Homo sapiens: one gene and its partner. The protein of the gene in region 1 interacts with the protein of each later gene in a biochemical or structural test. Each region holds a gene or a part of one and is shown on either strand. Other genes may lie near its edges.

Region 1 (10,454 bases):
GGTGGAAGGTGGTTTTACTGCAAAAATATGCACGTTTTCCTTTCTGCTATCCATACACTTCAATAAGATTTGAAGTAATTTAAAAAGTGAAGGCCGGACGCGGTGGCTCACGCCTGTAATCCCAGCACTTTGGGGGGCTGAGGCGGGTGGATCACGAGGTCAGGAGATCGAGACCATCCTGGCAAACACAGTGAAACCCTGTCTCTACTAAAAAATACAAAAAAAATTAGCCGGGCGTGGTGGCGGGCGCCTGTAGTCCCAGCTACTTGGGAGGCTGAGGCAGGAGAATGGTGTGAACCTGGGAGGCGGAGCTTGCAGTGAGTGGAGATCACGCCACTGCATTCCAGCCTGGGCGACAGCACAAGACTCTGTCTCAAAAAATAAATAAATAAATAAATTAATTAATTAAATAAAAGGTGAGACAAGCATGTGAAAGGAAAATCATTACTACTGATCGTCTTTGCTCACCGCTGTTCCCCTCTGACTATTGCAGGACGTAGACAAGTTTGGCAACGAGATCACCCAGCTGGCCCGGCCCCTGCCTGTGGAGTATCTCATCATAGACGTAAGTGCCCCCCATGCACAGCTTGGGCAGGTGGACCCATTGGGCGCCTTGTAGGTGGGACTGCTGGGTGGTGGCTGCTCAAGGGAGGAGGCTGCAATTTAAGGCACCCTCTGCCTTGAGCAGTGCCCACCCCAGAACAGGCACCCAGGAGGTGGTTGTAGAATCACTGAGCATGCGGTGTTGCTGAAATGCTCACAGTTTTAAGGGCTTTTTGTTTTAGTCTCAGGTTTTTATTTCCTTGACGTCAACCTAGGGGTTAACTGTCCCCATACTAAAGTACAAAGGACCACTGACCCCAGGCTAGGCAGCCTCTGGAAGGCAGCGAACCCCCATTGCTTGGGTCTCCAGTCACCGGAGCATCAAGCAGTCTTGTCCAGATGTGCTGTGCTTGGTGTGTGGCTGTCAGCTGTCCTGCACGTGCAGGTGCTTGCCCTAGCCCCAGCACAGCTGCCACAGCCCACAGTGTGTCTGGGTCACTCCGTCCAGGGTGGTCCCCAGGGGACACACCTGTAACTCAGTGTTCTTGAGTGAGGGCTCAGCGTGGTTTACTGGGTGGAACTCCAGGAGCCACAAAGGCCCCTGGCTCTTCCACATCTTCCCTGTGTCTCAGCTCCTTTTTGGAGGCATTTTATGGTCATGGAGACATGGCTGTACCATTGGCCACAGGGCAGCAAGGATGGCAGGATGAGCCTTTGCAGAAGCCAGTGCATCAGCCCCACCGGAGCTCTGTCCAAAGCGGACGGGAGGCGGCTCATTTCCTATGCTGCTGCCACGCCAGGATCTATTCAGGCTGCATTTGAAATTGGATGGGCACGTGATTCAGGCAGTAAAATATCATTGCATTCGGAACAGCAGGTCCCCACGAGCCAAGCCCATCGATGCACCATTCCAACTGACAGCTCCCGAGAACATATTTATTACCTAGGCCGTGAAGGCATCTGGTTTTTAGACTACCTAGGGTGTAATTAAGATGAAAACAGATTGATGGAGCATGCACCCAGGAGGAGCAGGCATGATTTAAAACCAGCTTTCTCAGGTCTTCTACCCCAAGCAGCCTCCCCACTTCTTTCCTCTTCTTTTATAAAGGAAGTTAAGTTTTTGCCTTAGTGCAGTTTTTCAGAAGTACTTGTTTGTGGGAGAGCATTCTGCTCTGTGATGCCCAGGCTCCTTGACCCTGTGGAAGTGAGGCATGGGGAGTCCTTGAGAGCAGGTGCCCAGAGAGGTGTGTCAAGCTCCATGCCCAGCCCTGGGCCACAGGCGCTGGCCTCAGCCAAGGTTCTTAAACCTTGGGATGGGATGGCTGGGCAGGCAGGAAAAGGCACCAGCCAGTGTTACTGGGGTTTCTTTGTGGGTTCTGGGGGCATCATCTGGCTGATAGACGATGGGTAGGGTAGGGAAATGGCTTCAGTGTAAGATGGGAGCTGATGCCCTTCCTTGGGACATCTGGGATGGGCTGTGTGGACTTTGGTTCTGTTCCCCTCCAAGGGCCAGTTACAAGGCCAGCAAGAGCCCCCGTCAGTCCCACTAGCTCACTCACTAGCACGTGTTCTGGGGGTGCCGCCTTCTTCATTTCTAGGCCTTCCCAAGGGACGCGCCTGAGCAGGCCAGGCTTTTGTCTCTGCAGGAGGTCAGCACCTCCCCTGTCTTCAGCTGGGACCCAGCACTGTGTGTACCAACACTATGTGTACCAGCCCCGTGCTGGGCACCCAGGAGGCGAGTACTCCGATCATCTTCATCCTGAGGAAGAGTAAAGTGAGGCCCAGGATCCCTAACTGACGAGGCCATGTAGCCGACACGTGGCACCGCGGCCCGAGTCTTCATGACCCACCCCGCCGCTTGCCCATGAAGGGCCAGCTCAGGCCAGAGATGCTGCTGGTGGCTCAGCTGTCCTTCCACAGCGGCTGGCGCTGGCACAGCAAATCCTGGGCCAGCTAGCTCAACAACTCACTGCCTTTGCTGATGCAGAAAACAGACCAGAACCACACTCATTCTTTAGAAATAGTCCCAAAGGAACCAGAATAGTTCCCCTAAATCTGGAAGAGGTGTGACCTCTGCTGCTGCTGTTGTGTTGCAGAGAAAAGCAGCATCAACTCAACTCGGTGCTGCTTTGGGGAGGGGTGTCTGTCACGAAGAATAAAAGTGGTATTTCTATTGATTCTTGCACATTTACCACTGTCCCTGTAGCATCTATTGATTATATCTTAGGTGCAAAGTGCCCTCTGTTGTCATTAAGGCCTGTCTGAGCCAGTGAAGGACTGAAGGACTTAGCTGGCCTTTGGGTATCAGCTCTGAGGGAGAGAGAAGAGCTGAACCCTGTGTTCCTCAAGGGCCTTACATTCACCCCTGCCTGGAAAAGCCCACAGCTCCGTGGAGTGGCTCCCAGCATTCAGAAGGGGCTTAGTGAGCTGCTGAAGGGTGCTTTGTGTCTTGAAAGCTGGCTGATTGCTCATTTGCCCTCCGAATCCAATGACACGAATCTCTCTTGAGCAAAGTCAGCTCCTGGGGCGGCCTCCTGGCCCTTCCGTTCCTTTCCTGTCACCTGGCCAAGGGGCCAAACCAGCCTTTCGTTCCTCCATAGCAGAGGGAGAGAACCTGTGTGACTCTGAAGGGAAGCTGTGCCACGAGGGGAGTCCCAGTGCCCTTTTTGTCCGACGTCGAGGCCGGTGCACAGGCCGGAGGCTGCCCGGATATGGTGTAGTTTGTCTCCAGGATGGCGGAGTTTCCAAGTGTTCGTTTAGAGATGACACTAATAGATAACGGTTCCCTTTGATGGAGAGCTTGTAGAACATTCTCAGAATTGCTAGGAGTCGTTAATTTGGGCTCTGGGAGATGCTCTGGGCTGGCTGGGAGTCGGCCACACCATTTTCAGCCTCATTTATCATGGGTTTGTGTTTTTCTTCATTAGATCACAACAACTTTCCCCAAGGATCCAGTTTACACTTTTTCTATTTCGCAAAATCCATTTCCTATTGAAAACCGGGATGTATTGGGTGAGACACAGGTGAGCTCTTTGTCTTTAGAAACATAATTTAAGGTAACTGCTGATTGTTATCTAGTGTCAGTATTGTTTTTCCAGAAAACATCAAGCTTTCAAATGCTCCCGATTCATTCTTGTGACAGGCCAGCTAGGGCCTACTGTGGGGCACTGCTGGTCACGTGGACGCCCTTCCCATGGCTAGGTGATGGACGGCCACAAAGGCTAATCCCCTGACGTCCTGACTGGCCACATCTTCAGTGGACCTCGTAATTTTCCCAAATGTGTTGCTTTGTGTCTTCTGCCAGCAGCCTCGTCACTGTTGGTTTGGCCTGGCCCCTGCCTGGTCACCTGCTGCCCTTCTTAGGCACCTTGGGGCTGTGTGGCCCCTCTCGGCCTGGCCTCGGCTTTCCCGTGTGTAGTGTTGATCTGCTGCTTAGCGTGGCTCCCGTGTTGGCCTCTGCTCTCACTGGCAGATCAGGCCAGGTCCGATTTGCTGTCACGCCTGCATACTGTGTAGACAGGCTGTGTACACATGGTTGTTCTTAAATCATAACTTGCTAACAGACATTTCAGAAGGTGGTCAAAGAATGTCTATAATGAGGTTTTCTTCAGTGGCTGACAAAGCTTCTTCTATGCTTTGATCCCCTCAGTGCCCATCCGCCCAGGGGACTTGGGGTGCTCACAGAGGTGCAAAGCCAGTTATTGGGGTGCACTCTTGAAGCTCTGTGTTTGGTTCTGCTGAAGATGTCCGTGCTGCATCACGGCTGCCCTGCACATTCCTCCCTCTTGCTGCCCTAGATGGAGAATACAGCTCGACAGGAAAAGTCAGACCTGTCTCCCTGCCGTGAAGGGGGCCCCAGGCCCCTCCCGCAGCCCACTCTCCACCGGGGGACCAGGGCGCATTTCCATGTTTGTGTCTCTGTCTGAGTCAGCCTTTTTTTTTTTTTTTTTTTTTTTTTGGAAGACAGAGTCTCACTCTATCACCCAGGCTGGAGTGCAGTGGTGCGATCTTGGCTCACTACAACCTCCACCTCCTGGGTTCAAGCGATTCTTCTGCTTCAGCCTCCTGAGTAGCTGGGATTATAGGTGCGCGCCACCAAGCCTGGGTAATTTTTTTTGTATTTTTAGTAGAGACGGGGTTTCGCCATGTTGGCCAGACTGGTCTCGAACTCCTGACCACCTGCCTGCCTCGGCCTCCTAAAAAGTGCTGGAATTACTGTGTTAGCCTCCACACCTGGCCAGTCTGAGTCAGCTTTATAAGCATGTCTCCTTGCACATCTGGGTAGTCAGGTGTGCTGAGAGCATCTTCTTGGGAGAAGAGAGCAAGAGCTTGCTTTGCAGCTGCCTGCTCCTCTTTCTTGGACCCTGTTCGTGGTTGCAGAGGCAGAGGGAGAGGTGTCTCAGCATTCAGTGTATTGAGTTGCGTCTTAGTAGGAAACAGCTCTGTTTCGGGGTCTGGCACTGGGGAACTGTATGGAACATTCATGTTTATTCCCATTCCTCTAGGACTTCCATAGCTTGGCCACCTATTTGTCTCAGAATACCTCATCTGTGTTCTTGGATACCATCTCAGATTTCCACCTCTTGCTGTTCCTGGTCACCAATGAAGTTATGCCTCTGCAGGTGCGTGTCCAAGTGTGGTGTCCACTTGAGCAAGTGGGCTTTGGCTGCAAAGAGACGCCTGTGTCTTGCTTTCTTTCCTCCCAGACCAGAGCATGATTGGGAAACTGGGTCAAAGCTCGGGGTCACAGGTTGTCCCCCTCATTTGTCCTATGGGCAGAGTGTAGGCAGCAGCTTTTCACAAGAAGCTTGTTGATAGAAAGATTAATTTTTTCACCTTTAGCATTTCCATTGAGTGTCTGCACCTCTGTGAGGAAGTACGGTTTCATCTGTTACAATCGAATGGGAAGCAGAGGTGATTTAGCTCTGCCTCCAGCATTAGAGTTAGACAGTTTAAAAAATTCCTGTTCTAACAGTTTCAGAGTCACAGCCTCTGCTTTTTACTCATATCTCCCCTCCTCCTAAATCAACTCTGGTTTTATTGCCTTGGCCCAGAAGGCTTGGCCAGCTTCCAGACCCCAAGCTCACAGCTGCACAGTTGGCATTTTTAAGAGACACCGTTGGGGGAGAAGAGGGCGAGTGCTTTGCAGAAGTGGCTGCTCTGGGTAGTGGGGGCCAGTGGGCAGCAGCCCCCAGGAGGTTCTTGCCGTGTGTAGGGGTCCGACTTTGGCTTTTTCTTCACTGTTCAAGCCAACAGGAAATGCCAAAGAGAAAGGAGCAAATTCTTTCTGAGCTGCTCCGCCACTGACTCAGAACTTTTCCCTGAAGGAGACAGAATAGAGAGGCTCCTCCTCCCCCGGCCTTTCTCTGTCAGGAAGCCTATAGCTGTTCTTGTATCCTGCTAGTTTATTTTGTGTCTGTATTTTGTCTCAAAACCACTCACTCGGGTATTTGACATCAGGCACCCTGTGCCTCTTCCCTGCCTGTGCCTTCCCTAGTCAGCCCAGGGAACTGCACCTCCTGCTCCGAGGTTCAGCTGCTGCCCATCTGTCTGGACAGGTGGTGAAAGGTGAGGCTCCCTCTACACCAGAGCCACCTTGCTAGTATACTGCACTATTTTTGCAGTCATCTGTTGGAAGACATTCTCTGGAGGTACTGAGAGCTCCTGAAGGCTTTATCCGTTTCTCATATATGAATTATTTTTTTTTAAGACGGAGTCTCGCTCTGTTGCCCAGACCGGAGTGCATTGGCGCAATCTTGGCTTACTGCAACCTCCGCCTTCTGGGTTCAAGCGATTCTCCCGCCTCAGCCTCCCGAGTAGCTGGGATTACAGGTGCCCGCAACCACGCCTGTCTAATTGTTGTATTTTTAGTAGAGACGGGGTTTCGCCACGTTTGCCAGGCTGGTCTCAAACTCCTGACCTCGTGATCTGTCTGCCTCTGCCTCTGAAAGTGTTGGGATTACAGGCGTGAGCCACTGCGCCCATCCTTAATGCATTAATCCCCTGCAGTTTGACTCGGAAGGCTAGGATAGAGAGTGCATTTTTCCAGACACGAGAGGAGAAAGAGGCAGAGGGATGAAATGTGAGGGAGGAGGACACGTCTCACAGTCAAGACTTCCGCCCTCCATCCCAGCCTCCAGGACGAGAGGCATGAGCTCCTATCCTCCGGGCTGTTGAGCACCGTCAGCACAAGGCAGAGGCACAGATGCCCGCTTGGGCCTATTTGGGAAGAATTTAAATTCTAGTTCAATTTAGCACTTGCGTTTATAGATGTAAGTTGTGGCAGTTTGCATTTTATAGTGATAGCCTGTAAGATTTTTAAAATGTCCTCAGAAATACGTCTTGATGTTGGGGAGAAAGAAACCTGTTCTAGCAGGAAGCTGCTCACCTTAGGCACAGCGAAGAGGAACCTTCCTTTTGGCTTCTTGTAGGACAGCATCAGCTTGCTGCTGGAGGCCGTGCGGACCAGAAATGAGGAGCTCGCCCAGACATGGAAGAGGTCTGAGCAGTGGGCCACCATCGAGCAGCTGTGCAGTGAGTACCCCCACCCCCTGCCCCGGCACCCCGTGGCTGGGGCCGGAGAGCAGCCCACTCTGCACAGCTCCCCACTGCCGGTGGTGCCCTGGATTCCGCACCCAGCTGCATCCTGGCAGGTGCCATCGGCAATGCAACGAGTAGAGACTCGGCCTCCCTGCCAGGCACGTGGCAGGCTCCGGTGATGGAGCAGACATGTTGTCCAGGCCGTACGTCTTAGGTACACAGCCCTGTAAATTTTATAAACCTGTACATCAGAGATACTAATCTCCAGGCATCCTAGGAGCACTTTGAACATCATTGTCTTAAGAGAATCAGAAACTTTATGGAAGCGCCGGAAGCGTGGGACCTTTTGGTCTCCTTGAGAATTTCCCTTTAGTGCTTAAAGCTGTAAGGAGGAGAAGCCTGCAGCATCCATGTTGTTGCTGGTGGACACTACGGAACGGACCGCAGGCATTGCGTGTCTTCCGGACCCTCAGTCACCAGGTCCTGAACGATTCCCCACTCGTGAGAACCTTCTGTCAGCATTGCTGCAGGGACTCCTCACGCACCGTGGTGCCTCGTGCAGCCCGAGTGCCCTGAGTCCCTGCAGCTGAGAGCACCAGAGTGCCCGGGAGCTACGGCCCTGGACAAATGCTAGAATCCTTCTGTTAACACAGCCTTCAAAAGACACATCAAACACCTTTATACCATTTCCTGTTTTTTTTTTTTTTTTTGAGACGGAGTTTGGCTCTTGTCACCCAGGCTGGAGTGTGGTGGCGTGATCTTGCCTCACTGCAACCTCCACCTCCTGGGTTCAAACGATTCTCCTGCCTCAGCCTCCTGAGTAGCTGGGACTACAGGCATGTGCCACCATGCCTGGATAATTTTTGTATTCTTAGTAGAGCCAGGGTTTCACCATGTTAGCCAGGCTGGTCTCGAACTCCTGACCTTGTGATCTGCTTGCCTCTGCCTCCCAGAGTGTTGGGATTACAGGTGTGAGCCACCACGCCCAGCCGAGGTTTTCTTTTCACACAATTCTTTGTTTATTATTTTTATTTTTGTAGAGACAGGGTCTCACTCTATTGCCGAGGCTGGAGTGCAGTTGCACAATCGTAACTCACTGCAGCCTCAAACTCCAGGCTCAAGTGATCTTTCTGCTTCAGCCTGCTGAGTAACTGGGACCACAGGCTTGCAACACCACACCCAGCTAATTCTTGGGGCTTTGTTGTTGCTTTTTATTTGTTTGTTTTTTAAAAATAATTTTAACTTATTTTAGATTCACAGGGTACATGTGCAGGTTTGTCACCTGGGTATATTGCCTGATGCTGAGGTTGGGGTATGATTGATCACATCACCCAGGTACTACACATAGTACCTAATAGTTTTTCAGCCCGCCCTGCTCTTTGTGTGTGTGTGTGTGTGTGTGTGTGTGTGTGTGTTTTGAGCTGGAGCCTCACCCTGTCTCCCAGGCTGGAGTGCAGTGGCGCAATCTTAGCTCACTGCAAACTCTGCCTCCTGGGTTGAAGCAATTCCCCTCCCTCAGCCTCCCGAGTAGCTGGGATTACAGATGTGTACCACCACACCTGGCGTTGCCATCTTTATGTACGTGAGTACCCATGTTTAGCTCCCACTTATAAATGAAAACATGTAGTATTTGGTTTGCTGTTCCTGCATTAGTTTGCTTAGAATAATGGCCTTCAACTGCATCCATGTTGCTGCAAAGGACATGATTTCATTCCTTTTTATGGCTGCAAAATTTTTTAATATTTTTGTATCAATGAGGTCTCACTGTGTTGCCCAGACTGGTCTCAAACTTTGGCCTCAAGCATTCCTTGCACCTCAGCCTCACAAAGTCCTGAGATTATACCTGGGAGCCACTGCACCCAGCCCTTTGATGCAGTTCTAACAATGACACCAGTCTTTTTTTTTTTTTTCTTTTTTGTTTCCCTTTTAGAGACAGGGTTTCACTCTGTTGCCTAGGCTGGAGTGCAGTGGAGTGATCATAGCTCACTACAGCCTTCAATTCCTGAGCTCAAGCGATCCTCCTGCATCAGCTTTCGGAGTACCTAGGAGTATAAACATGAGCCACTACACCCAACTAATGTTTTTGGTTGGTGTTTTTTTTTTTTCTTTAAGAGATAGGGTTGGCCGGGCCCGGTGGCTGGCTCACACCTGTAATCCCAGCACTTTGGGAGGCTGAGGCAGGTGGATCACAACGTCAAGGGATTGAGACCATCCTGGCCAACATGGTGAAACCCCATTTCTGTTAAAACTACAAAAATTAGCTGGGCATGGTGGCGAGCGCCTGTAATCCCAGCTACTCAGGAGGCTGAGGCAGGAGAATCACTTGACCCAGGAAGCGTAGGTTGTAGTGAGCTGAGATCGTGCCACTGTACTCCAGCCTGGGCGACAGAGCAAGACTCTGTCTCAAAAAAAAAAAAAAGATGTGGTCTTGCCATGTTGCCCAGGCTGGTCTCAAACTCCTAGGCTCAAGTGATCTTCCTGCCTTGGTTCCCAAAGTGCTGAGATTACAGCTGTGAGCCACTGCACCTGACCTTTTTTTTTTCCCCCCTCCTTTTTTTTTTGAGACAGGTTCTCACTCTGTCACCCAGGCTGAAGTGCAGTGGCATTTGAGGTCAGTCTCACCTTGACCTCCCCAGGCTCAAACAATCCTCCCGCCTCAGCCTCCTGAGCAGCTGGGACTACAAGCATGTGCCACCATCCCTGGCTGATTTTTTAAATTTGTTGTAGAGATGAGGTCTCACTATGTTGCCCAGGCTGGTCTTGAACTCTTGGGCCCAAGCGATCCTCCCGCCTCAGTGCTGAGATTGCAGTGGTAAGCCACCATGTCCAGCCAACTCTTTAATAATAGGCAGTTCTGACTGGTGTAAGTTCTGACTGGTATCTCACTGTGGTTTTAATTTGCATCTCTGATGATTAGTGATGTTGGGCATTTTTTCATGGGTTTTTTGTTTGTTTGTTTTGAGACAAAGTCTTGTTCTGTTGCCCAGGCTGGAGTGCAGTAGTGTGATCTCAGCTCACTGCAGCCTCCACCTCCCGGGTTCAAGCCATTGTCCAGCCTCTGCCTCCTAAGTAGCTGGAATTACAGGTGGCTGCCACCACACCCAGCTAATTTTTTTAGTTTTAGTAGAGACAGGGTTTCTCCATGTTGGCCAGGCTGGTCTCAAACTCCTGACCTCAAGTGATCCACCCACCTCGGCTTCCCAAAGTGCTGGGATTATAGGTGTGAGCCACCGCGCCCGGCCCTCATGGGTTGTTTTGTTTTGTTTTGAGACGGAATCTCACCCTGTCACCCAGGCTGCAGTGCAATCTCATGATCTCCACTTACTGCAACCTCCACGTCCTGGGTTCAAGTGATACTCCTGCCTCAGCCT
Region 2 (11,416 bases), on another chromosome or scaffold:
ACTCATGTTATGAGGCCAGCATCATCCTGATATCAAAGCCTGGCAGAGACACAACAAAAAAACAATTTTAGACCAATATCTCTGATGAACATCAATGCAAAAATCCTCAATAAAATACTGACAAACCAACTCCAGCAGCACATCAAAAAGCTTACCCACCATGATTAAGTGGGCTTCATCCCTGGGATGCAAGGCTGGTTCAACATACAAAAATCAATAAACATAATCCAGCATATAAACAGAACCAAAGACAAAAACCACATGATTATCTCTATAGATGCAGAAAAGGTCTTTGACAAAATTCAACAGCCATTCATGCTAAAAACTCTCAATAAATTACGTATTCATGGGACGTATCTCAAAATAATAAGAGCTATTTATGACAAACCCACAGCCAATATCTTACTGAATGGACAAAAACTGGAAGAATTCCCTTTGAAAACTGGCACAAGACAGGGATGCCCTCTCTCACCACTCCTATTCAACATAGTGTTGGAAGTTCTGCCCAGGGCAATCAGGTAGGAGAAAGAAATAAAGGGTATTCAATTAGGAAAAGAGGAAGTCAAATTGTCTCTGTTTGCAGATGACGTGATTACATATTTAGAAAACCCCATTGTCTCAGCCCAAAATCTCCTTAAGCTAATGAGCAACGTTAGCAAAGTCTCAGGATACAAAATCAATGTGCAAAAGTCACAAGCGTTCCTATACACCAATAACAGACAAATAGAGAGTCAAATCATGAGTGAACTCCCATTCACAATTGCTTCAAAGAGAATAAAATATCTAGGAATCCAACTCACAACAGATGTGAAGGACCTCTTCAAGGAGAACTACAAACCACTGCTCAATGAAATAAAAGAGGATACAAACAAATGGAAGAACATTCCATGCTCATGGATAGGAAGAATCAATATTGTGAAAATGGCCATACTGCCCAAGGTAATTTATAGATTCAATGCCATCCCCATCAAGCTACCAATGACTTTCTTCACAGAATTGGAAAAAACTACTTTAAAGTTCATATGGAACCAAAAAAGAGCCTGCATTGCCAAGACGGTCCTAAGCCAAAAAAAAAAAGCTGGAGGCATCACGCTACCTGACTTCAAACTATACTACAAGGCTACAGTAACCAAAACAGCATGGTACTGGTACCAAAACAGAGATAAAGACTAATGGGACAGAACAGAGGCCTCAGAAATAATACGACACATCTACAACCATCTGATCTTTGATGAATGTGACAAAAACAAGAAATGGGAAAGGATTCCCTGTTTAATAAATGGTGCTGGGAAAACTGGCTAGTCATATGTAGAAAGCTGAAACTGGATCCCTTCCTTACACCTTATACAAAAATTAATTCAAGATGGATTAAAGACTTAAATGTTAGACCTAAAACCATGAAAACTCTAGAAGAAAACCTAGGCAATACCATTCAGGACATAGGCATGGGCAAGGACTTCATGACTAAAACACCAAAAGCAATGGCATCAAAAGCCAAAATTGACAAATGGGATTTAATTAAACTAAAGAGCTGCACAGCAAAAGAAACTACCATCAGAGTGAACAGGCAACCTACAGAATGGGAGAAAATTTTTGCAACCTACTCATCTGACAAAGGGCTAATATTCAGAATCTACAATGAACTCAAACAAATTTACAAGAAAAAAAAACCCCATCAAAAAGTGGGCAAAGGATATGAACAGACACTTCTCAAAAGAAGACATTTATGCAGCCAAAAGACACATGAAAAAATGCTTATCATCACTGGCCATCAGAGAAATGCAAATCAAAACCACAATGAGATATCATCTCACACCAGTTAGAATGGCGATCATTAGAAAGTCAGGAAACAACAGGTGCTGGAGAGGATGTGGAGAAATAGGAACACTTTTGCACTGTTGGTGGGACTGTAAACTAGTTCAACCATTGTGGAAGACAGTGTGGCGATTCCCCAAGGATCTAAAATTAGAGATACCATTTGACCCAGCCATCCCATTACTGCGTATATACACAAAGGATTATAAATCATGCTGCTATAAAGACACATGCACACGTATGTTTATTGCGGCACTATTCACAATAGCAAAGACTTGGAACCAGCCCAAATGTCCATCAATGATAGACCGGATTAAGAAAATGTGGCACATATACACCATGGAATACTATGCAGCCATAAAAAAAGGATGAGTTCAGGTCATTTGTAGGGACATGGATGAAGCTGGAAACCATCATTCTCAGCAAACTATTGCAAGGACAGAAAACCAAACACCGCATATTCTCACTCATAGGTGGGAATTGAACAATGAGAACACTTGGACACAGGAAGGGGAACATCACACACAGGGGCCTGTTGTGCGGTGGGGGGAGGGGGAAGGGAAAGCATTAGGAGATATACCTAATGTAAATGACGAGTTAATGGGTGCAGCACACCAACATGGCTCATGTATACATATGTAACAAACCTGCATGTTGTGCACATGTACCCTAGAACTTAAAGTATAATAAAAAAAATTACAAAAAAAAGAATATAGTTTGGGATTATCTAGTGTAACTAGCAATTCAAATATATGATTGTATTTTCTATAATATTTACATCAAAGCCTTAATTTTAAACTTATTTGCACATATTTCTGTAACATAACTAATGCACTGAATATTCCCATTCATATTGTCCTTATGTGGTATTATGGTTAACAACTTAAGTCCTTCATATTTCCTACTGGAGTATATATAGTCTGTGAACGATCTATGCATCTGGAATTTTTGTAATTCTCAATGTGATTTGCTTATACCTAGTAGAATAAGTTGAATGTGGTATAAATTTATAAACTAATTCATTCATTAATTAAAAATAATAAAGAAGATACTTGGTAACTTCTCAAAAAAAAATTTAGAAGATTATGCTTTTGTTGATAATCTCTTCTCAGCCTGCAGCCTTTTTATCAAATACTTGCTATAGCAGTTGTGTTCTTAGCATATCAAACTTATGTTTATTAAGCCTTGCAAAAATGTAAAATGTGCTTCATTATTTATCCTGTAATAGTCATCAAAATTATTTCTAAATATCATTTATATACCAGGTCCCTAGTGAGGTAGTTTAACTAAAATACTGTTTTATTTGTCTTCATATTGATTTGCTCACATTGAGCCCACTTATTGTTAAATTTATTTATAAGGACCCTTCATATATTAAAGATATTGTCTTTGGGGGGAAATGCTTTCAATGTAAGTGACAAGCATTTTGCCATATGTCTTTGGATATTGCCTATGGTATTTTCTACCTTACAAAAGTCTTCTATGCTCTAACTTATTGATAGTTTCCTTTATGCCTTCCTCTCTTAAACATTATTTTTAATTTACCATCTCATTTAGTGTATATAATTATTTCATTTCCTAATAGAAAAAAGGGTGGGAGGGGAAGGTTGTATGTGTGTGTGTGTATGTGTGTGTGTTGTTTGGTCACTTTTTGGAAAAAGTATATCATATCTAGATTTCTACTTGAATTGATTCTCAATGGAAAATTAGTGAATACTGAATCAATCGATAACACTTGCTGTGTTCCAGCTTGACCATAGCAATTACTGTGTTTCCCTCATTAATGAATGTGGTCGTTCATTTTGAAATTCCTACTACTTTGCCTGCTGTGACTTCGTTTATTTTGTAAAATCATCCTGACTAGTTAAACAATTTAATTGCTTTCAGCATGATGAGATTATTTCTTGTAATGTATCTGTTTCTATTGTAAAACAATGATAACATATTTGGCTTTGGGGCACAGTACTGTATCACAGTAGTGTATCTGAGATGTTCAAATATAAATGGAAGTGTTCCATTATAAGGCCTCCCATCCTCAATTGATCATTTTTCCTTCTTTATTCAACAGTATTTATTTTCTTCCCTCCCTTCCTGCCTCCACCTTTCCTCTGGTCTTTATTACCTGGTCCTTCTCTGGTATTTTTCCCTTAACTTGGCCTACATATTTACCCGTTTTCTCCCTATAATACTGGTAGGCTCATATAGTCCTCACCTTCCTCTGTGCAAGGCAAGGGTACCTACGAGCCTGGAGCTGAAAACCTTCCTTTGGCAGTCATTACTGTTGAAAGGATTTCCACATGTGCAAATCTTTCAGGACAAGTAATTGCGGACAATGTGAGTGATCTGTCTTGAGTCCAGCGACATCACAGGGACCACCCCATGTGGCACTTTCCTCATCCCACCCATAACATTTGAACTTAGTTAAAATGAACATCAAAGCCTGCTCTAAAGAAGAAAAGAAAAAGGAGTCATAAAAGGGCAGTGTAAGGCCTGGAGACAAAGTTGAGATAGGGACAGTGTATGACCAGGCAGCCAGCACCAGCAGTGCTGGGACATCCCTATTTGCCAAGTCCTCAAGGTATTTTCCTGATTACTCCATATGTGAGGATCCTGCACTTAAGGCAATTCTCATCCATTCCAGTCACTTCATAGCTGACGTGGAGAGGAGTAAAGGAAAAGGAAGTTGAAGTACTATTGTGTGACTTAACTCAATAATGATGGTTTAGAAAACGTATCTTCATATTTATGAAAGGAAGATTTAACATGCAAAATATATTCTGATTTAAAGTTGAGATAGAGGAAGACAAAACAAATTTCCCTCAATCTCACCTTTGCCACCACCATCATTCCACCAAGAAGAGGCCCTAGAGCAGCCCTCTGAAGTATTTACATTTAAGTTGCTTAGGAAAAGGCAGTATTCCAGGTGCCCCAACCCTTATTACAGCCCCAGCTCTGAGTTGAGGGGTACTTTGCTTTCCTTGCCAACTGCCCTTAAGCTCATTCATTTTAAGGACCTAGTGGGAGGGATGGCTGTAATCTGAGGTGAGATTTACATTTTCTTGAGAACTTCGGACTTAATATCATTATATAGCACCCCAATATCCTTCCCAAGCCCAATTTTCAAAGCTGCCATAGTTTCACTATGGGTGTTAGCAGATACATTTACCAAATTAGCTAAGCCATTACTGGACAGAAGTCAAGGCCTGAAGGGTGGTGGGCTACAAGGGAGGGATCCAGTGAAATTCTGCCAAATCCTGATGTCAAGTGCCAAGGGCTGGGGATGGTTGGATAGCTTGGGAAAACTTGATATTGAGAACATTTTTCAAAGGAATGTAAAAGGGAATAAATGGGAAGAGCTTGAAACAAATCTGCTTTGCACTTATGTCTACAGAGCAGTGTTTCTCAGACTACCTGTGGGAAAGACCAATGTGTTTGGAGTTTTAGTTTGTTAATTTGTTTGTTTTTAGTTTCAGCCCATTGTGAACTGATACGTTTATACAACACAAATAAATAGAAAAAAGTAATTAAATAAAAAACAAAGGCATACAAAATACACACCCAATTTTTATTAGATTGGACAAATTTTATTTCATTAATAAAATAAATTAATACAGTGCCATGTTAAGTCGCTGTTACAGTTTCTAAACTCTGGCTCTCAATTTCTGTCCCCATCTTGCTCCAAATCGGTAACAAAGAGGTTCGGAGACTGGCACAGGTCTGCGGGCCATGCTTTGATTGGCATGGCTCTAGGGGGTGTGGCTTATAAATCTGACAGAGCAGGTGTCTGGGCTGTTGAAGAAAGGCAGTCCAAGGGATAGAACCACACGAGGCCTTTGGAGCAGTGGCACAGCTGTTCTATAAGGGTCTCCTGAAACACAGGAGAAGCAGAAACAAAACATCTCTAAGAGCAGCAAGAAAGACAGCTAAACACAGCAAAGAAGAGCCACAAGGCTATGACGTGTGAAGCCAGCCCTCCTCTGAGCACAGCCTTGCACTTGCTCAGTCCGGTACAGTTGCTGTAAAGCCATCCAAAGCAAACATGGCCCTCCCTGCAGCAGACTCAACAGAACAAAAACCAACACCCAGAAATAAATTAGATCGCCGAGCTCATCATGTTACACAGCCCACTGTTCTCAAATCCAGAATCGTGAATATAATAACAAATGATACTATTAACTGGCAAATCGGTCTAAAGCCAAAACCAAATAACTCATTACTATTAACCAACATGATTCTCAGAATTTTCTAGGTCAGCTACAAGAAAGAGTTATGAGACTCTTCCCAACTGAACTAAATCTCACCCATGTCTAATTACACGCAGTGTGTATGGCTAAATCCTTTTTCTCTTCTGCACAGCTAGCTTGTGTCTCAGAGCCCCTAAACCCCCAGGGACTTCTCAAAGGAGGCAGGCATGTAGCCAGGTTGAAAGGAACATAGAGCCGGGAGCCAGCACATAGGAGCTTAAGGGCCACCTGCTAGCTCGGTAATCTCAAGCAAGTCCCTGAATTTCAGTTTATTTATCCATAAAACAAGACTAATGACAACCACTTCCCTGGAAATACAGCTAAAAACGTTCAGCAATTTGTACAACGCTATGTGGACATTAATCCTTACTACTCAGAAATAAGCAGCTGAGAGATGTTTGTAACCATTCCCATTTCCCCCGCCACACACACACACACACACACACACAAAGCTTCGTCCTTTACAATTTATTTCTTCCTTAGAGTTTGGATCACTTCTACCTGTCACACACCATCTTCCTTACGATCCCAGCATCACTGGGATGTAGCAGGGAACTGACGCCATCCTGTCTGCCTTCCAATGTGGAACAATGGCACACAGTAGAGCATCCAAGGTACATCAACAGTGACAAAGATGACTTGAAAATTCACAGGGACATTTGAGTGGGAGTAATAAGTTTGGTTTATTAAGCTTGTGGCTTTTCTTAATCTGGCTCCTCCTTATCTCACCTTCTGCTCTGACAGGAAGTCACTGCTCTGCGTTGGTTTTGTTCATTCTGTTTAACATGTAGAAAGCTTTACTGTTGCCACACACCTGTACAAGGAAAGCAGGTTTTTTATAAAATTCTGTGTTCTGGGAGGGTACTCATTCACATACAACTTAACATACAGGGAGGTCAGGCAGGTGATTTGGTCTAGGTCATAAGCTGTGTTGCCTTGGGCAAATTACTTAGCCTCTTGGAACTTATTTCTTCCATTGTAACATAAGTTGTCCTGCTTTCCTCAAAGACATAGACATGAAACCATAAATGATCATATAAAAAGAATTTTGGAAATAAGGTATTTTACTTATATATTATTAAGTTATAATGAATAATACATAATTATAGTATTATTTTTTATTATTCCTACTCTTTGTGCTAGAAAACAATTTGAAAGGAGTCTCTTGCAATCTGCCGAGCATAATAGCTCTGGATTTTAATTCTCCTTTCTAAAATGAATGGAAGATAAAATGCATACCTCTTAAAAGAAAGATCTGTTGATTTAATGCAAATTTTGATCAGTGTTACTAGGAAGTGATTGGCATTCTGATGCGTGATCTGTTTGTATTCATTTTATATTTGCACTGCTGATCAGTGTCTGGCACAAACAGAATCTTGTAGAATCTTGAGTCTAATACCTTTTGTATTGAAGGCCTGGCAATGCATTGTCATCTGTTCCTGGGAAGAATTACAAAATGCAGTCCTTTATTTTTAAAAGACATTATTATTAAGTCCCTGGAAAAACACATGGCCATTTTCAATTAAAAATGAGTAAAAGAGAGACTCTGAATCAAAAATAGTTGCCAATGTTCACCTTTAACAACATTATGAAATCTCACAAAAATGTAACTAAAATTTAACCAAATTTGGGCAAACTTAGAGAAACGACATGAGTAGGGATGTTTGCTGCAAAACATATGGTTTTCTCTGGTTGGTGCTCAGGCTTTAGCTAAGCCACATTGTGAAGTAACCATAATCTGTGCAAGGTCCATGTCTCTCTTCATCATAAATCTATGTCCAAATGAAAAAGAGAGAAGAATGAAATATGATAGGCACCATTTTGTGCCAGGAAAAATAGTAAGTATTGCTTGAGAGCAATGGACATCTTTGAACTCTGTCTGCAACTTCATTACATTCTTATGGCATGGATATTTTTCATTTATAAATATTATATACACATATAGTATAAATTTTCTTTATAGCATAAGTACTCTGATACAGGTATTAGAGATGGTATCTCCAGATATGAGTTCTTTATGGCATACATACCTCTCCCAAAAAAGTGCTAAAAGCAATTAGCCGGATGTGGTGGTGGGCGCCTGTAGTCCCAGCTACTCGGGAGGCTGAGGCAGGAGAATGGCGTGAACCCAGGAGGCAGAGCTTGCAGTGAGCCGAGATCGCGCCACTGCACTCCAGCCTGGGCGACAGAGAGAGACTCCGTCTCAAAACAAAACAAAACAAAAAAGTGCTAAAAGCACAGACCTGAAAGTCCCCAAACTGATACATAACGTTTACACCTAGGTGTGAAAAAAAATCTTACCCCTAGAGCACCTGTGGTGAGAAAGTCAAAACTTACAAGAACAAAACTCAGTCTTCAGAATCTTCTTCCTTCATCACAGGATCAACACATTTCATCTGGGCTTCTTAAATCTAAATCTTTAAAATGACTAAGTTTTCTTCCTTTTCTCTGTTTTTCCTAATAGTTGGGGCTTATATGACTCATGTGTGTAAGTATCTCCTATATCTACATGTAAACATTAAATGAATTTCTACTGACTATATTGTTATATTATAGATGAAAATTATTTTCACAATCATTCCTATCTTTCTGAACTGTAATGTATTATACAAATTTTTCATCAGTAAAATTATTGTAGCTTTTAGGTAGGGTTATTGTTGTTTTTTAAGCTTTGAAAATAATATAGTGACTGTCATTGGAAGAATTACATGAAACAGTAGTTTAGATCTTTTGTGTGAAACCTTTTGGTCTACTTTTGTAGGTTTCAATATGGAAATTATTGGAGGGAAAGAAGTGTCACCTCATTCCAGGCCATTTATGGCCTCCATCCAGTATGGCGGACATCACGTTTGTGGAGGTGTTCTGATTGATCCACAGTGGGTGCTGACAGCAGCCCACTGCCAATATCGGTGAGTCCTCCACACTTTTCCAGACATGTGTTTTTTCTGAAAGTTATTATAGGTACAAGAGAAGCTTACCTCTCCTGAATGAGAATTTGATCTACTGTTAGCTTCTGTGGTTACTGACCAACTGGTGGCGTTTATTTACCTTCTTCCACATCCACGCTTTCTGTCTTGGGTTTTCCTTTTCAGAGAGAACTGAGCTGCTTTTCCCAGGCAAGACATTAGACAAATTCAAGTCCTCTGTATAATGCAGGGAACACAGCAACAGTAATACTTGAAGCAGCAGTACTCTTGACCTTGTTAGATCACACTGCTCAAAAGGAAATCAGACAACCTGAGCTTGCTCTGTGCTCTGAGCTTCCCCATTTTACAAAGGGGTAATAATCATATCATACCTGCTTTGTGGGTTTTGAGAATTAAATAGTATCTGTTTAAGTATTTTAGCATGCTTGGCACATTTAGTAAGCACAAAAAAATTGCAGCTATTATCATTAGTATTATACGCATGAGAAGCCTACTTTGCCACTCCTAACAGTAGCTACCTAACAGTAGCTACTCACCACTTACAACTTTCCTAGGTGGAAAAAAACAAGTTATTGATGACTTCTAGAAAGAGAAAGATAATGAGAGAGTTATTTTCTAGGATACTTAGAATGAAAGCTTTTCTGAAGACAGAGTAAAACCTTCCAAAGTCCATTTCAGCCTAGGATTCTCTTACTTCAGCTAATAAAGCACAAAACCCCTCTTGGGATGCTGCAACCATCACAAAAGGAAATGCCAGTAGAAAACTAATTTGGTATTTGTTGTTTTGTTTGTTTGCTTGGGTTTTTGGTTTTGTTTTTTGTTTGTATATATGTTTCCTTATGTTTCTTACCTAATAAGCTGAAATGGAGCCTTCTCCTTTTCTTTCACTTAAAGATCTCTCTTAGCTGTAATGGTTTGCTCTCCAGGCATTGTCTATATCTAAACAGAACAATTGAATTGATTTGCTTTTCTATGCTTTGGGGGTTTTGTCTGATTACCCCATTTAAATGGAACTGTTTGATCACAAATTGGAAGTTTTGAAGCCTGCAAACTGGGAGATCTTCTGCTATCTCTAAATAGCAAGCCACTGATTTCCAATTTAATATGGTTACTTCATTTACACAGGGTTCTTGCCCTCATAGAAATCACACTCTCATCCCCATCACTTCTCTCTTCTCCAGGGCATTTGCCCCCTCGAGATCAGAGAGACAGAGTGGGGAACTGTCAGCGAATGTTCATTTGATGCAAAATATGCACATCTTCAAATATGCTCATAATACACATTCAAATGGTCTATAACCTCCCCAGACACAGAGCTTGACTTCTAAATGTTCAACAAACTTTGGATGGAAAGAAAGAAATACACTGAAAGATCTTTCTTTCTTTCTTTCTTTCTTTGGCTAGGCCTGAAACATGGTGTATGAAAAAGTGCTTCACTAGCCATAAAGTGTTATAGGAAATTAAATAATATCACTAAGTTGAATTTTAAATTTTGTCAAGTGGATTTAACTCACGAGAAGCGGATTCCCAAATTGGGGAAAGAGATTATTGACAAAAGACTGGAGAGAGGTCTTGGAGTTTTTTGTGTTTTGTTTTTTTTTTCTTAAAACAAACTATTGCTAAATATCATTTTAAATGGCTGGGGTATAAAGAACTGCAAAATATGTAGATCAAATTTCCTCTACAGGACACTTGGGTGTAAAAAGTAGGCAGATCGGTGGTTGGAAAAATATTAAGCTTTATGAAATTCAAAATATTTACAAAATAGCTCAATGGTGGCTTCCCACAAATGTACTCCCCAGTATCCTGTGGGAATAGTTTGCCCCAAGCCTCTCTCTCAGCAAAATTTTGAAGAGGGCCAAACCTGGGAGTGCTCCCTTCTCACCAGCCATCCACACATCTCCTCCCTCAATATTCTGGCCCCTTTATTAGTTGCCATGTCAAATATAAAAGGAAATTGATAAAAAATGTCCTGTACAAACTTATTTTCAGCATTTTAACTTACCAGAAGCAAAACTCTCACCAGCTGTTGTACCCTGTTCTCCTGATTCTCTCCCAGGCCCCTCTCACAGAGCACTTCCTCCTGCCCCAACCTGCCTAGCAAGTTGTTAGATGGAACCTTCCACAGCCCCTTCCACATGGCCTCACTCCATCTCAAATGCTCAAGGCTCCTGGAACAAAATGGTTCAATGTTCAGGCTCTAGATTCAAGCCAACTGAGCTTTAATCCTGCCCGAATTTGCCTCCTGGAGGCAAAGGTCCTCAAGTTTATTCGTTTACCTGAACCTCAATTTCTTCATCTATAAAATGGGGATTGTCATAATACCTATCTCACCACGCTGTTGTGCGGTTTAAATGAGGGAAGCTTTGTAAAATGCTTAGCACAGAACACAAAGAACTTAATAGATGTTATCGAGTATTGTTATACAAT

Evidence for each region.
Region 2: of the proteins of NPLOC4 (region 1) and GZMK, one has a biochemical effect on the other in vitro, tested with the Homo sapiens proteins (one study listed by BioGRID).

The regions. Positions count from the first base shown.
Region 1 is NC_000017.11:81,562,128-81,572,581, reverse strand, and holds part of NPLOC4 (nuclear protein localization protein 4 homolog), read left to right. Parts: intron 1-493; coding exon 494-565; intron 566-3,470; coding exon 3,471-3,566; intron 3,567-5,048; coding exon 5,049-5,165; intron 5,166-5,979; exon of another isoform or gene 5,980-6,111; intron 6,112-6,974; coding exon 6,975-7,077; coding exon of another isoform or gene 7,078-7,262; exon of another isoform or gene 7,263-8,335; coding exon of another isoform or gene 8,336-8,382; exon of another isoform or gene 8,383-8,602; coding exon of another isoform or gene 8,603-8,661; exon of another isoform or gene 8,662-10,454. UniProt on the Homo sapiens protein: The ternary complex containing UFD1, VCP and NPLOC4 binds ubiquitinated proteins and is necessary for the export of misfolded proteins from the ER to the cytoplasm, where they are degraded by the proteasome.
Region 2 is NC_000005.10:55,015,840-55,027,255, forward strand, and holds the start of GZMK (granzyme K precursor), read left to right. Parts: upstream 1-8,416; 5' UTR 8,417-8,483; coding exon 8,484-8,547; intron 8,548-8,820; coding exon 8,821-8,968; intron 8,969-11,416.